Homo sapiens: one gene and its partners. The protein of the gene in region 3 purifies or fractionates together with the protein of the main gene of each other region. This does not show direct contact. Each region holds a gene or a part of one and is shown on either strand. Other genes may lie near its edges.

The links.
Region 1: the proteins of FAM163A (region 3) and CRTAP purify together in Homo sapiens (affinity purification with mass spectrometry; one large-scale study listed by BioGRID and IntAct). This does not show direct contact.
Region 2: the proteins of FAM163A (region 3) and SPAG9 purify together in Homo sapiens (affinity purification with mass spectrometry; one large-scale study listed by BioGRID and IntAct). This does not show direct contact.

The regions. Positions count from the first base shown.
Region 1 is NC_000003.12:33,120,514-33,124,167, reverse strand, and holds part of CRTAP (cartilage-associated protein isoform 1 precursor), read right to left. Parts: intron 1-3,654. UniProt on the Homo sapiens protein: Necessary for efficient 3-hydroxylation of fibrillar collagen prolyl residues.
Region 2 is NC_000017.11:50,984,867-50,988,520, forward strand, and holds part of SPAG9 (C-Jun-amino-terminal kinase-interacting protein 4), read right to left. Parts: intron 2,372-3,654; coding exon 2,246-2,371; intron 913-2,245; coding exon 832-912; intron 125-831; coding exon 57-124; intron 1-56. UniProt on the Homo sapiens protein: The JNK-interacting protein (JIP) group of scaffold proteins selectively mediates JNK signaling by aggregating specific components of the MAPK cascade to form a functional JNK signaling module.
Region 3 is NC_000001.11:179,749,739-179,753,392, reverse strand, and holds part of FAM163A (protein FAM163A), read right to left. Parts: intron 1-3,654.

The DNA of each region.
Region 1 (3,654 bases), on a different chromosome or scaffold from region 3:
CTGAATTAAGGAAAATGGGAAAACTATGACAGAGATCAGATCAGTGGCTGCCAGAAGTCAGGGGTTACAGCAAAAACTTGACTACAAAAGGACAAGAGGAAATTGTTCAGGGGTGATGAAAATATTCTATGTCGTAACTATGATGGCAGTTACAGGACTGGATGTATTTGTCAAAACTTACTGCATTATACACTTAAAATTGATAAATATATTGTATATAAATAGTACCTCAATAAAACTGGTTTTTAAAATGGAACGAAAAGAAAAATGTAAGTTTGAGAGCAGGTATATTAGTCTGTTCTCACATTGCTATAAAGAAATACCTCTAGCATGGCCAATATAGGGAAACCCCATCTGTACTAAAAATATAGAAATTACCAGGTGTAGTCACATGCTTGTAGTCCCAGCTACTCACGAGGCTGAGGCACAAGAATCACTTGAACCTAGGAGGCGGAGGTGGCAGTAAGCTGAGATTGTGCCACTGTACTCCAGCCTGGGTGACAGAGCGAGACTCTGTCAAAAAAAAAAAAAAAAAAAAAAAACCGAGACTGGGTAATTTATAAATAAAAGAGGTTTAATTGGTTCATGGTTCTGCAGGCTATACAGGAAGCATAGCAGCTTCTGCTTCTGGGGAGGCCTCAGGAAACTTACAATCACGGCAGAAGGCAAACAGGGAGCCGGCACTTCACATGGCCAGAGAAGAAGGAAGAGAGCGGGGAGGTGTTACACACTTTTAAACAACTAGGTCTCATGATAACTCACTCACTATCATGAGAATGGCACAGAGAGGATGGTGCTAAACCATTAATAAAGGATCCACTCCCATGATCCAATCACCTCCCACCAGGCCCCACCTCCAACCCTGGGGATTACAACTGGACATGAGATTTAGGTGGAGACACAGATCCAAACCATATCAGCAGGTGTCTGTCACCCCACTTCCTCCGACAATGCAGTTAAACAGAAGTGCCACCATGCATCAGCACTAGTTACTAGGAAGGGCAACCACATGCCAGATAGTGGAAACTTCAAGGACTTTCTGCTAATTGTTGATTAGACTCGATTAGAAGAGAAATAACAGGAGGCTGAGGCAGGAGAATCATTTGAACCCAGGAGGTGGAGGTTGCAGTAAGCCAAGATCGTGCCGTTGCACTGCAGCCTGGGCAACAGGGCGAGACTTCATCTCAAAAAAAAAAGAGAGAGAGAAATAAACTAGGACCAAGGAAGTAGCTTGGTCTCCAAGAAATAAGTAGAGATCCTGGATACACACAAAACCTGCTAACTTGCAGAGGCCAGGACAGGCCCTGAATAAGCATGGGACCCTCCATTTGGAGTTCTCAGCTGCTCTGGAATGGTGGTATCTGAGGGCACCCCTTAGACCTAGAATTTTCACCAAGCTTAAGGCCTCAGGTAAAGACAGTGGATTTTCTTCTTCTTTTTTTTTTTTTTTTTTTTTTTGAGACAGAGTCTTGCTCTGTTGCCCAGGCTCGAATGCAGTGGTGCAATCTCAGCTCACTGCAACCTCCAACTCCTGGGTTCAGGCAATTCTCTCTGCCTCAGTCTCCCGAGTAGCTAGGATTACAGGTGCCTGCCACCACGCCTGGCTAATTTTTTTGTATTTTTAGTAGAGACAGGGTTTCACCATCTTGCCCCAGCTGGTCTTGAACTCCTGACCTCGTGATCCACCCACCTTGGCCTCCCAAAGTGCTGGGATTACAGGCATGAGGACCGCGCCTGGCCGAGGGTGGATTTTCTTAAACCTCCTGGGCAGGCCACATGCCCTGGAAATAAGACAGGCTGAGAACTGAAGGAGCCTTTCCTGAAGAATGGGTCAATAAGTAGCCAACTCCAGACAGCTGGTTCTGCAGAAGCAGCGGGGCAGCAGCAGCAGCAAGAAGGACCAAGCAGAAAGAGGAGGCCCCTGATCACACAGGAGGGCAGCACAGCCACCCCAAAAGGGCTCCAGTGAGGGCCAACAGGACTAGCTGAATTCCAGATAAGCCCAGGGCACTGACCACACGCACTCGGCTTCGTTCCCCAAACCCTATGAAAACAACAGTGAAGACTATGAAAGGCATAAATTGCTTTTATGGGAGAATGGGAAGGGAGCAAGCAGCAGATGAGATTTCAACAACTTTTGGAAAGGCAGGAAGTGAAATAGTCACAAAGGAGGGGCCAGAGGGGAAGCAAGCTATATGTCCCATTGGCATGCGCAGGCATGAGGGACCACGGGAGGCTGGGGTAAGGCATGGAGCTAGAAGCAGGGCTGCAAGTTTGAACAGGCTGTTGGGGTCCTGGGTCCGCTCCCAGCACCTACCCACCCACCCAAGAGATCATATCTCCCAAAGCCACTCTTCACCAGAGAGTGGCAGTTTATTCTAGAGACTTTACCCATAAAGGCTGAGGAGTCAGGGACCAGACGTAGCAGAGGCCAAGTGGAGGCATGAGGCTAAAATCAGGAAGCAGGTGAAGTATTCCTACTCACCTGGGTGACCCTGTCCCTCTCCCCACACTGGTTCTCAGACACCAGCAGAGGAGTATGCGCACCCCACCAGCCCTGCAGAAGGCTGGTGAAGTCTTCCCTGGAAAACTGACAGATACCCCCAAAAAGAGACTTCCACACATACATTTTCCCTAGCAGTCAAAAAGTGAGCCTGAGATCTGATCACTCTACAGAAAACCCTGTGGTCAGGCCTTGGGAACTATAACTTCTAGTGGATATTTTCCACATATCCCCATTTTCTTTCATTTTTTTTGAGACAGAGTCTCGCTCTGTCGCCCAGGCTGGAGTGCAGTGGCGCAATCTCAGCTCATTGCAACCTCTGTCTCCCGGGATGAAGTGATTCTCCTGCCTCAGCCTCTCGAGTAGCTGGGTTTACAGACATGCTGAGTCACCACGCCCAGCTAATTTTTGTATTTTTAGTAGAGACGGGGTTTCACCATATTGGCCAGGCTGGTCTCAAACTCCTGACCTCAGGTGATCCATCCGCCTCGGCCTCCCAAAGTGCTGGGATTACAGGCATGAGCCACTGTGCCCAGCCAAATTCCCATTTTCAACAATGCCCTGCCCTTGCTTGAAACCCAGGCCCCCAGTGCCTGAGTTCCAGAAGACCTTGACAATAGTGAGTGCTCAAAAGGGCGAGATCGTTCTTTCTTATTGTTGTTCTTACGACTAATTCTCATCAAAACTCTTCTTCGTAGATGCGCAGATTTAAGTGTCCTCTACTCTGTCACATCAGCCTTCCTAACTCGTCTTCATTTTCTACCTTAATATATTTAGGGTGCGTTTGTGTGCAAGTGTGTATAAAAATATATGCCTTCTCATTTCATCAAAACTGGAGATTTATGTTTCTATTTCTTGTGTTCCTGGTCATTTTAGATGATTTCCAAGATATGTCTTTAATCTACCCTCTTAAAACTAAATAATTAAATGACCATATTTCTAAAATGTAGCATTTAAAGGGAACATGGCTTTTAAAATCATCACGGCATACAAAATATCATTATTAAATGGATCACTTTGTGCTAAAAGTCAATCATTTCTATTGTCATAATATTCAGCAAATGTCACCAAAAATCACTAGAGGTCCTTAGCTATCAGCAGCTGCTTATGGAGAGACATTTCTTTAACAGTCCAGGTTGCCACTAACTGCC
Region 2 (3,654 bases), on a different chromosome or scaffold from region 3:
AAATGCTTTGCAAAGCAACAAATTAGTGTCCATGTTATACACACATCACCACTCACCCACTCCTCTGTGAAAGATTGCAAGGGTGCCGTCAGCCAGGGCTACTAACACGATTCCCTTCACGTGTCTGCAAACAGGAAAGGGGAGTTCAGAACTCTCCATTCAGGAATACAGAAGGGACCACATGCTACTGAACTAGTTCAAGGCCTCACAAAGGGCCAATCTGTGATGAGTTAAGGAGCTGACACCTGAATATAAATGAACACACCACTTTCTTCACTGTGGATGTCCTGCTATGAAAAAATGTCAGCTGAACTAAATAAACAGTATGAATGGTATCTCAGTTATTTCACTTTCTGGCCCAAGGTTCTCCTCTCATCACAGACAATCAACACAAACTCTAAAGACCAGAGACATGCACCTTGAGTGGAACCAACAGAGTCAGCCCTGTAGGCTCAGAGATAAACTGTCTGATTTTTTTACAGTGAACACATAGAAAAGAACTAGTAATCAATGCCCCAATCAACATATTTACAAGCCATAAAGAATATTCTAAAATAAACATAACTTAATAGGTATTGGTTATTTCCTGCAGTGCTAAATAAATCGCAGTATGGTGAGGACTCAATCAAGCAAGTTATCCTTTCTACTTCGTTTTCTATTATACAGTTTCATTCTCACTTAACTTCTCTAGTTCCATAAAAAGGGTTAAAAAAACAAACAAATTGGATACTAATTTAGTCGTGAAACATGTATTAGCTTTCAAAGTCTTAAAATCTAGTTTATACCAAAATGCATAGTTTTAACAAGAAGAATTTCCAAAATAAAACTTACACAATACTGAGAATCGAATCTTTAAGTTTAATGGAATGGAGACATTTCCTCCACTGGGCTACAGATGAATGGACATACAAACTGTAAGAACAAAGTCAACACTGGTAAGGCATAGAGAACATCAAGACATTGCATATATCTAACAATGATCGCGAAGTTCATTCAGAAGGAAAGAAGAGTAACATACAAATTTTAGGAAAAGGTGCTGCTGCTTTTGTGCAATGGTCAGAAAAGAAAAATGAGAGTGAGGGTAGGCCTAAGGTAAAGAAATAGGCTGCTGAGCAAAGAAAAACATATGAAGACTGAAAAGCAAGAACTAGTGCAATGCACAGTCAGGTTCACACACTTAGTCCTTGGGCAAAACTCTTTTTTTGAATTGCCTTACCTCTCTACTACACTGATCTATAACTTTTGGATGACAGAGTGGCCCACATAGGGAGTGGCAAACTATGGCCTACAGGCCAGATCCAGTCTGCCACCTGTTTTAATCCAGCCTGCAAGCTAAGAATACTTTTTACATTTTTAAAAGTGTGTGTGGGGGGGAAATCAAGGGTATTTTACGACAGGGGAGATTTATATGAAATTCAAACTACAATGCCCATAATGCTCTACTGGAAGAGAGTTACACTAAGTTTGCCAACTCTTCACTTTATAGTATTGGACTCATATGAAAAAGACATACTACAGGTTGAGTAACCCTTATTTGAAATGCTTGGGATTTCTGACTTTTTCAGATTTTAGAATGTTTACATCATACATAACAGTTGAGTATTCCTAATTCAAAAATCCAAAATGCTCCAATGAGCATTACCTGCCAGCATCATAACAGTGGTCAAAGAGTTTTAAATTTTGGATTAGAGATGCTCAACAGTAATCTTGCTTAACCTTTGTAAATGCACAATTTTGTAAAACTCTCCACACAACCGGAAAGTGAACAAACCATATAATATTAGTCATCATCATCTGACTTTGCAGATTGTGATTTGTTTTACCTATCTTAGTAAAAAATTCACTAAAAGTTGGGATTGGGCCTTCCTGCAGCCAAAATGTTGGTTTAATCCCTGTTTTCCTGCCCACATTCTAGCCTACATAAATTAAATATTCTCTGTCTTTGTGCTGTTCAGGATCTTCTATTTCTGGAGCACCTCGATTTTAAAATTTTACATACCTCTTCTTCCAAGAATATTATAGAAAGGGAACATTCTGTGACAAAGAAACATATGGCTTACTATTCAGAACCAGTGCAAGTCCAGTTTATGTGGTAGTTGCAACATAACATCAAATTGTGTGTATATATAAAATTCTTTGCATTAATCCACACTTTTTGTATTTGTTTACCATATTTTACTTATCTTCTGATTTCAAAAGCAAAAGTAAAACAACATATTCTAATGTTAAAAGCATTGACACCTACCAGCCATTTTGAGCTCCAAGCCACATAGTTGGTAAAAGACTACTCATTTTCTGGGCTTCTTCTCTCACCAAGTCTTGTTCATTTGGCAGTACTGATATTTGATCTTTATATGCATCTGAGTCATTGCTGGAAAGGGAGGGCAAAAGGAAAGAAATCTGAGTATACTTAACTATCGTTATAGTTTTCAGGGACTGAATCCTTCTATATTTAAGTTTGTTCATTTGTTTATTATTTATTTATTTTTTAGAGATAGGGTATCACTCTGTCACCCAGGCTGGAGTACAGTGGCACAATCAGGGCTCACTGCAGCCTTGACCTCTCAGGCTCAAGTGATCTTTCCACTTCAGCCTCCTGAATAACAGGGACTAGAGGCACACACACTATCACACCTGGCTTCAACTTTTAGTCAAAAAAAAAAAAAGAAACCACCAAAATTCCAGAAAAGCCAAAGTCAAAAGCTTACATCACATATTTCAACAATTGTACCAGAAATAACATTAACAAACTAGGAAGCCCAAGGAGCAGAAAAGATAATAAGACATGGTAATGAAATACAGCAGTTAATATTCAGACAATTACTATGGCTGTCTCTTATTTTGGGTTTTGTCATAGTTTCTTCTCAAGTGAGAGAGAAGGGAGGGATACACACATACAAATAGTAGGGAGAAATATAAAGAATGACCTAAAATAAATTAATAAACTGAAATATGTTTAATATTCTATCACAAAACCTTTCCTTTGAATTGTCAGGGCATATTTAGTAAAAGATATATAACCAGGCTATCAAATTCAAACATGACTTATTCTTAAATTAATAATTCAGGCCAGGTGCGGTGGCTCACGCCTATAATCCCAGCACTTTGGGAGGGTGAGGTGGGTGGATTTCTTGAGGCCAGGAGTTCAAGACCAGCCTAGCCAACATGATAAAACCCCATCTCTACTAAAAATACAAAAATTAGCTGGGTGTGGCAGCACATGCCTTCAATCCCAGCTACCTGGGAGGCTGAGGCAGGAGAATCGCTTGAACCTGGAAGGCGGAGGTTGCAGTGAGCTGAGATTGCACTGCTGCACTCCAGCCTGGGTGACAGGGTGAGATTCCATCTCCAAAAAAAAAAAAGAATTAAATATTAACCCATTTATGCCGGAGGTTGCAAATTTTTTTTGTAAAAAATCAGACCTTAGCGATGACCTTGAGCAGTAGGATATGAATAACTCCCACAAGCTTAGCATTCCAATAATGGACCACTAGGCATAAATGGGTTATTAATTAATCTTTCTTACTTTATACACTAAGAATATTAAACTTTAAAAAGGATCTAGTTTAAAGAGACTCTCATCTAGAGGGGATCTAGAAAAGGCAGGAAAGAAAATAAAATAATTCACTAAATGGGCCTAGATTAACCAACCCT
Region 3 (3,654 bases):
AGTATTATCCATAAACACAATGTTGTACAGCAGATCCCTCACATAACTGAAATTTTATACCCATTGATTACCAACTCCCCCTTCTCCCTAGCCCTGGGCAATCACCAGTCTACTCTCTGTTTCTGTGGTGACTATTTTAGATGCCTCATGTAAGTGGAATGATACAGTATTTGTCTTTCTGTGGCTGGCTTATTTTACTTAGTATAATGTCTTCAAGGTTCATCTGTGTTGCAAATAGCAGGAATTCCTTCTTTTTAAAGGCTGAATAATGTTCCTCTTTATGTATACACCACATTAAATCCACTATGCATGGATTTTTTAAAAATGTGGTGTATACATAGAGTGGATATGGTTGTTTCCATCTTGGCTATTGTGGATAATGCTGCAAGAAATATGGGAGTACTAATATATTTTCAAGATTCTTATTTTAATTCTTTTGGATAAATACCCAGTAGTGAGATTGATGGATCATATGGTAGTTTTATTTTTAATTTTTTGAGAAACCTCCATATTGCTCTCCACAGTGACTGCACCATTTTACATCCCCCCCACAAACAGTGCACAAGAGTTTCAGTTTCTCCACATCTTCACCAACTCTTATTGCTTTATACTTTGATAACTGCCATCCCAACAGGTGTAAGATAATATCTCATTGTGGTTTTGATTTACATTTCTCTGAAAATTAGTGATTTGGGGCATCTTTTCCTATGCTGTTGTCCATTTGTATATCTTCTTTGAAGAAATATCTATCAAAGTCTTTAGCCCATTTTAAAAATGGCTTGTGTTTTGCTATTGAATTTTATGACTTCCTTATATATTTTGGAAATTAACCCCTGATCAGATGTACAGTTTGCAAATATTTCCTCCCATCCCATAGGCTGCCTTTTCACTCTATTGATTTTTTTTTTTTTTTTTTGGCTGTACAAAAGCTTTTATGGTTTTGTAATCCCACATGTCCATTTTTGCTTTTGTGGCCTGTGATTTTCATATCCATGAAATCATTACCAAGACTAATGTGATGAAGCTTTCCCCTATGTTTTCTTCTGAAAGTTTTACAGTTTCAGTTCTTATGTTCAAGTTTTTAATCCATTTTGAATTGATTTTTTGTGTATGATGTAAGATTGGGGCCCAATTTTATTCTTTTGTATGGGGATATCCAGTTTTGCTAACACTATTTGTTGAAGAGACTATCCTTTCCACTTTGCGTATTCTTGGCACTCTTGTCAAACATCAGTTGACCGTATCATGTGTGGATTTATTTGTGAACTCTCTATTCTGTTCCATTAATCTATGTGTCTTTATACCAGTACCATACTGTTTTAATTACTGTAGTTTTATAATATAGTTTGAAATCAGGCAGTATGATGCCTCTAGCTTTCCCTTCTTTTTCAAGATTTTGGCTATTTGGGGTCTTTTGTGGTTCCATATGAATTTTAGGGCTTTTTATTTCTGTGAAAAATGCTGTTGGGATTTTGATAGGGATTGCATTGTATCTGCCAATCACTTTGGATAGTATGGACATTATAAAAATATTAAATCTTCCAATCTATGAACACAGGATGTCTTTCCATTTGTTTATGTCTTCTTTAATTTCTTCCAGGCCTTGTTCTTGATCTTAGAGGAAAAGCTTTCAGTTTTTCATCATTGAGTATGATGTAGCTATGTTCTCCACACTGGCTTTTTTTTCTTTTTCTTCTTTTTTGAGTCTGCTTGCTAGAGAATACACTGGCTTTTACAGGTCCTCAATTCTGTCATTAAAACAGAACAAAATCACCCTCTTTCTCCCTGACTTTCACAGCAAACCTCTGGAAAGACTTATTTATACGTGCAGCCTCCATTTCTCATCTTCCATTTTCTCCTCCACCAATTACATCTGGCTTTTGCCCTCCACGTCACTGACCTCTTGCTTAAACCACCTATGATCTCTTTTCCTAAGGCCAATGGACCTTTTTAGGTCCTCATCTTAATTCACTCCTCAGCAGCACCTATGCTTTCTCTTTTCGTCTTCAGGAAATGCTCTGCCCTTGGCTTTCATGACATTTCTCCCTCTTGGTTTTTCTCTGATCTCTCTGGTTCATCCTTCTCTGTCTCCTTTTCAGGACCACCCTCTTCTACTTGAGGTTTAATTCCAAGCCTTCTCTTCGAAGCCCACCCTCTCTCCCTAGGCACTCTCATCCATGCCATGGTTTCAATTACCCCTAGATGTTGATGACTAACAGAGGCATAGCTCCTACCTGGACCTCTCCTCTGAACTCCTGCCTGTATATCCACCTGTTCTCTTGACCCATCCACTCAGATGGTTCAAAGTCTCCTGGCTGAGACTCACTCACAATGTTTGCCCCAAAGCCTGGTTCTTTACCACTGTTTCCTGTCTTAGGAAATGGCATCACCAACCACTGGTACAAAGCTGGAAGTCTGGAACTCATCCTCCACACCCTTCTCTCCCAACTCTCACATCCAAACCATCACTTCCTCTCCATTTTACCATCTCGAATTTCTCACATCTATGTCTCTCCACCACCACTACAAACTTTCCAGTCTAAACAACTGTCACTTTTTGCCTGGACTACATCAGGAGTCTGCTAACAGGTTTCCCTGGATCTTCTCATGACCACCTCAAATAAACTGTTCAATTATACAGCCAAAGTGACCTTTTTGAAATAGAAAATCTGTCATCCTACTGCTCAAGTACTTCAGTGACTACCCCTTGCTTTAGAATCAACCTCAAAATCCTTAATGTGGCTGATAAGATGAGGTATGTTTAACCCTTTCCTACCTCTTCCGCTCATGTTGTATGATTTCCCCTCTCATTCTCTGAACCCTAATTCTACTGGCCTCAAAATGCCATATTCTTTCTAGCCATGGTCTCTGCCCATTCCAGGAATATCCTCTCCCATCTCCCAAAGTCACCTCACCTCCTTAGCTCCTACTCATTCTTCAGGTTTTAGCTCAATCATCACTTCCTCAGGATGACTTCCAGCTCCTTCCTGAATGGCCCCAGGCCTTCTGATAAACACTCTTAGAATACCATGCACCTCCACTTTATAGCTTTTATCACAGTGTTACTTTATATTTGTTTTGTGACAAATTTGTTTCCCCTGAATGACTTCAAGCTTCATGAGGGTAGGGTTTTGACTGTCTCCTCCTATCCCCCTGCCTCCAACATTGTATCTCCAGTGACATTCAGTAAACACTTGCTGACATCTTGACAATGCAATCCTCACTTTTCAGCCCCAGCCCCCTCTAGCTTCTGGCCTCACTACTCTACTGATATTGTCCTTGATAAGTCATCAACAACCTTCTGATTGCCAAAACTGCGCTTCTGTGGAGCCCTGGTGTTCTACCAGCTGGATTGAGGGTTTCCTGCATTAAAACAGAATCCTGGTAGTCTTTCCCCAATTCACAGACAATAAATAAGCTGATAGAATATTCTCAATGTAAAGCTTCTGTTCATAAAGTTTTCTTAACACTTGGCACCTGTGCTCTTCGATTTAACTCAAAATTGTATTTTCAGTTATTTTTATTTTTATTTTTTTGACAGAGTTTCACTCTGTTGCCCAGGCTGGAGCGCAGTGGCATGATCTCGGCTCACTGCAACCTCTACCTCCCAGGTTCAAGCGATTCTCCTGCCTCAGCCTCCCAAGTAGCTGGGAT